2 separate regions of the Homo sapiens genome follow, and region 1 is linked to region 2. The links come from fine-mapping of genetic effects on gene expression. Tissue or cell type: whole blood. Region 2 holds a variant in brackets; the other region holds the start of a gene. All regions are shown on one strand. Distances are between the middles of the regions.

Region 1 (2,755 bases), 29 kb before region 2:
CGGAGTTCAATGGGCATAAGAACTACTTTGGCAGAGCAAGGTTTCCAGCACCCAACTACTGGGGACGAATTGGGGATTCTCTCCGTTTCCCAAGAGGGCCAAGGAATTGAATTGGGAAGCATTTCTGACGCTGTTATAACCATAACCAGACAAGTCTCCAGCAAAGTTGCTGCAGCCTGTAAAGACAGCCAAGTGCGGGTGTGGACTGCAGCGGGATGATGATCACCTCCTGACCCTTTTTCTTAGGGTCTGACCCACAGCCCCCACCTACAAATATGCCAGACGCGTCGCCGGCTCCTTGCACCCGACTGAGGGGGTTCTGATTTCCTGGAGCAGCAGCGGGGCGTGTGCAGGACGGGGAGGGAGCAGGCAGGGGCGGCGCGGCGCAGGCCCGCTCGGGCAGCAGGGGGCGTGCGGGCCACCCCGCCGAAGGCCAGGCGAGGCTCTGGGCACCCCAAACCCAACCACCTGCGGCAGCGACTTTCCCGGCTCACCTGCGGGGTCCAATTTCAGCCCGTTGGAGTTGCTGGTATTGGCCACCAGGGTGTTGGTCTCCTCCTGGTCGGGACCCTGCTCGCCCGGGGCCACGTTGATGTCGCTGCTCCCGGGGCGGGTGCTCTTAACGCGAGGCCCCTTGGGGAGGCCGTGGCCGTGGCCGTGACCCCCGTGCGAGTGGCCGTGGCCGGAGTCCTGGCTGAAGCCGCTGTGATGGTGGAAGAGGCAGAGCCCCAGCACGTTGACCAGCAGCCCGGCCACGCCGACCCCAAGGACCACCAGCGGCTGCTGCATCTCGTGCGGCTCGATGAAGCGCTCGATGGCCTCCAGCAGGATGGCGAAACAGAGGCCAGTCAGGAAGATGGCGTTCACCAGAGCCCCCATTACCTCGGCTCGGATCCAGCCGAACGTGTTCTTCTGGGTGGCGTGGGTCCGCCGGGCGAAGCGCTCGGCCACCAGCGCCACCACCAGCGCCAGCACGTCCGACAGCATGTGGAAGGAGTCGGAGAGCATCGCCAGCGACGAGGTCACCCGGCTCACCACCACCTCCAGCACCATGAACATGAAGGTCAGCGCCAGCATGCACAGCAGCCGGCCCCGGTTCCGACCCCAACACCCCATGGCTGCGGCTGCGGGGCCCGCCGAGCCCGGCCCGGAGACTGGTGCAGCGGCGGCGTTGGCGGGACGCGGAGGGTCGGCGACCGCGACACGGAGGAGCGCCCGAGTCGGGCCGTTCGGGAAACCGCTGAGGGGCCCCCGCGGCCGCACGGGGACAAGCCCGGGTCAAGCCGCCGAGCCCCGCGCCTGTGGGCGTTCTCCGCCAGCCGGCGGCGCCGCGCCGCGCAGCTCCTCAGGCGTCCGTCCTCAGAGCCGGCGCCGAGGCCCGGCTCAGCCTCAGCAGCCCCCACACCCAGGCGGCGGCGGTGGCGGGGAGCTGGGCTCCCGGAGCCGGGGTACCAAGAGCCGCAGCCGGAGCAGGAGCAGGAGGGCGGCGGGCGAGGGCGGCAGGAGAGGGCGACGGGCAGCTTCGCGCCGAGAAAGCTCCGAGCATCTGAGGGCTCTGCTTGCTGGTCTCCTCTGCGGCGGCTGGACTGAGGAGCGGATGGCTGAGGAGCTAGAGAGGCGGCGGCCACGGCAGCTGCACTCGGCCCGGTCTCGGGCGCCTTCTTCGCCCCCCCGCCTTTGCAGACGGTTTACAAAAAAACTTTGCTTTGCACTCGGAACCCCCGTTTTCACACGGACCCGAGCGTGACAAGGCCTTGCCGCCCCGCCCACCAGGCCCGGCACGCTTCCCCATTGGTCAGGACCCCCTCACGACAGCCTCGGCGTCCCGCCCAGCCACGCTCACTATTGGATGGAGCCTCGGAGGGGCGGGAAGGGGGCGGGGTCGCGGCTCCAACAGATAGGGGCGGGGCCTTTTCCTCCCGGAGCCGGGCGTGGGCCGGGGGGCCGTGGCCGGGTGCAGCGGCGGGCGAATTGGGGGCGCGGGCCGCGTGCAGCGGGAGGGGGAGGGGCTGGCCGGGTCCCCTCGGGTGTGGCGGAGTCCTGGCCTGCGGACCATCGCAACTCCCAGCACACCTGCGGGGGCCGGGCTGCAAAGTCTGCAAACAGACTTTGATCCTCCGAGCCCAGTCCACGTGGGGGCGGGCCGCGCGGCGGCTGTGTGACAGCTCGGCGGCGGGGGAGGGGCCGGAGGGGAGCCCCTGAGCGCGGGGCCCTCGAGTACTCGGTCCTGTCGGAGGAGGCCGACAGACGCATAAACAAGTGCGACTGTAACTTGGGACTCTGCTGGACGCCGAGCTGAGGAGTTAGTCCTCCCGAAGGTCTGCTAGGGGCGTGGACCGAATCTTTGTACATGTTTTGGGAAAGCCAGTTTCTCCTATCACCATCAACCCCTGGAGACCTTGTGTGAACTCAGGTGTCTGTCACTGATTATCTAAGGACAGTTCAGGGTACAGACTTCAGGCAGGAGAAACCTGGGCTCTGCTCCTTGCCTTGTCAATAGCCAGCTGTGTGGCTTTGAGCAAGTCACCTAATCTCTCTAGACCTGTTTCCCCATCTATAAAGGACTGGACAAATGCAACTCTGAAGATCCCCGTCTGACTCCAAAATTCTAAGGCTCTATGATTTAACATTTATTTATAGACTACACACGGTGGAATCTTGTGCTGGTTGCTATGGGGAGGTGGAGGGGCAGTAAGAATACAAAGGAACGAGTTTCTGTCCAGGTGGAGGTAAAATATAAACACGACATTTTAAA
Region 2 (2,755 bases):
TTTGGTTCTTTGACACCACAATCGTAGCTCCCGCAACTCTCTGGTAAATCCCTTTCTGTCTCCTTTACTGGGTCCCCCCACACCTTCTAGTTTCTAAATGTGATTTTTAAATAAAAGTTTCTAAACGAAGTTACCTCTGAACATCTCTCCACTTTCTCTCAGGGAGATCTCAGCCACTCCCATGGCTTCCTTCTTTATTTAAAGGTCTGTTCGCCAAATGTTCACATTTCCTTACAACATCTCCAAGTGATGGTCCAGCTTTAATACTTCCAGTAAACTCACTGATAATGCAAATACATTCCAAATTGATATAGTTTCTCTTTAGAGTCAGCGGCTACTCCTGATTTCCCAACTTCAGAAGTAGTTGCTTAAAATGTATGCAAAAGAGCCAGAGGGTGTCTTGCGGAACCCAAGAACAGGAAGTGCATCTAGAAATCTGACCGCCTACGGGCACCCGGGCAGCTGCTCCTAAGCTCTCACTCAGAAGCCATCTCTGCATGGGCTTCCTTCTTCTCCGTTTTGCAGCCTGGCATCTTCATGTGGAAGCATGAGGCCAGCAACAGGTCACCAGCTGGCCCAATCACATCTTCAGCCTCCGAGAGAGATTGAGAGAGACAGAGAGAGAGAGAGAGAGAGAGAGAGAGATCTTTCTTTGCTTTAGTCCCAAGCTGAGGAAGAGTTCCGATTGACCCATCTTGGGTCCGGCGTCCCTAGACAAAGGCTGTGCATTTACACAGTGACCTCCACAACAGCCGTGGAGAGATGAGGGAGCAATGGATGCTTCCCAGGAGGGAAGGGTCCATTCCCAGAAAGGGAGGGAGGGCCAGGCTGCAAAAACAATGGGGACCCAGTACGAACAGGACAGAGGACCTTCCCTGTGAGTGAGGAGACAGCTCTCAGAGAAAGGAGTTATTAATGGTACAGGCAGAAGTTCCATGATTTCACCCAGGTCAGAGACCTTGGAGCCATTTTTGACTCCCTCTGTCAGACTCCCTCTGTCACTGTCCACCCACTTCCCTGATGTCCAATAAGACACTAACTCCTAGTACTTCTTTCTT[T/G]CTTGCTTGCTTTTTTTTTTTTTTTCTGAGACAGAAACAGTTTCACTTTTGCTGCCCAGGCTGGAATGCAATGGCACCATCTTGGCTTACTGCAACCTCTGCCTCCCAGGTTCGATTCTCCTGCCTTAGCCTCCCGAGTAGCTGGGATTACAGGCGCATGCCACCAGGCTCAGCTAATTTTTGTATTTTTAGTAGAGAGGGGGTTTCGCCATGTTGGCTAGGCTGGTCTTGAACTCCTGACCTCAGGTGATCCTCCTGCCTCAGCCTCCCAAAGTGCTGGGATTACAGGCATGAGCTACAGTGCCCGACCTACTTCTTCTTTCAAAATACTTTATTGTCCTCCCTTTCTTTGGTTTCTCATTCCAGTTCCTTAGTTTCAGTCCTCATTGCCTCTCCCCTGGGTTCTCTAATCACCCCACTGGTTTGCCAGCCTTTTTTCTACTTTCATCCAATCTATGGTCAGACTAATCTTCCTAAAACACCACCAGGAAGAACTTTCTTCCCAGATCTAAAAACCTTCCAATGTCACCTGGCTGCCTGTAGAACAAAGTCCAAACACTTTGGCTGGTTATTCAGGAATGTCTTCAACTGTCACTGGCATTGTTACTTAGGTTCTCCATATCTGTGGCCTGCGTGGCCTTTCCTAATGGGAGTTCCCCAGCCACATGCCCAGGGTATGATTTTACCCACCCCCTGCCTTAGGAGTGGGGCTCAAATGGCTTAAGCCCACCAACATAGCCCCATCACCCTGGCCCTAGCTACTGGCTGAAGAAAAGACACTGAGCTAGATCCAAGCCAGCCAGCATGTTCTCCAGGCCACAGTCATTGGCTCGGGGGACCACTTGTGAGCCCTGCTGACCCACCAGAGCAAACCTCAGGACTTGTGCTGGTGAGGCTGGGCATAGAGGCTCTTTCTTCTCCTGGACATGAGTGGAGAAGCTTACAGTCCAAGGAGCTGCTGCCAACCATCGTGGTTCTCAAGAATAGCTGCAAACAGGGCAATTGGCCTAAAAACAATTTTCTGAAAGCCAATTCATTGAAAGCCAATTTCTGAATCAATTTGAAAATATAAGCATATTCAGGCTGGGTGCAGTGGCTCACGCATGTAATCCCAGCACTTTGGAAGGCCGAGGCGGGTGGATCACTTGAGGTCACGAGTTCGAGAGCAGCCTGGCCAACATGGTGAAACCTCTTCTCTACCAAAAATACAAAAAAAATTAGCCAGGTGTGGTGGTGGGTGCCTGTAATCCCAGCTACTTGGGAGGCTGAGGCAGGAGAATCACTAGAACCCAGGAGGTGGAGGTTGCAGTGAGCCGAGTTAGTACCACTACACTCCAGCCTGGGTAACAGAGCAAGACTCCATCTCAAAAAAAAAAAAAAAAAAAAAATATATATATATATATATATATATATGTTTATTGACTGTTTTAAAAAAGCATATTCCTTAAATCATGTTTTTGGCAAATTTGTCATTTGGCACATTGGCTTCAAGCCAGGGAGGTGGAGTCAGGACGAAGCCTTCGGAAGAAGAGAGGAAAGACACAAATGCAAGGTCCTTGGTGTGGCTTTGAACTCTGGATTGGCCTTGACTGAAGCCCGCCACACCTCCTGACTTTTCCAAAACATGAGTCAGTCCATTCCTGTTAGAGTTTGACCCAGGTTTGTTTGGGTTTCCTGTTACTGGCAAGTGAAAGCAT

What was found. PIP is the estimated chance that this variant, and not a neighbour inherited with it, causes the effect.
Region 1: it holds the start of SLC30A1, and the variant in region 2 is fine-mapped to the expression of SLC30A1 in whole blood (INTERVAL, PIP above 0.99).

Annotation. Positions count from the first base shown.
Region 1 is chr1:211,577,497-211,580,251 of GRCh38, forward strand. SLC30A1 (solute carrier family 30 member 1) reads right to left here and starts at 1,665. Exons shown (of 2, transcript NM_021194.3): 1 at 495-1,665. The coding sequence starts at 1,116. RefSeq lists silencers at 295-644, 1,145-1,454, 1,695-2,254 and enhancers at 755-864, 837-1,338, 1,339-1,838.
Region 2 is chr1:211,606,641-211,609,395 of GRCh38, forward strand. It overlaps LOC105372903 (a long non-coding RNA gene), which reads right to left. Exons shown (of 2, transcript XR_001738450.2): 2 at 1-593. Among named protein-coding and RNA genes, the nearest start is that of SLC30A1, 29 kb to the left of the region's middle. The variant T/G (reference allele first, on the strand shown) is at 1,059.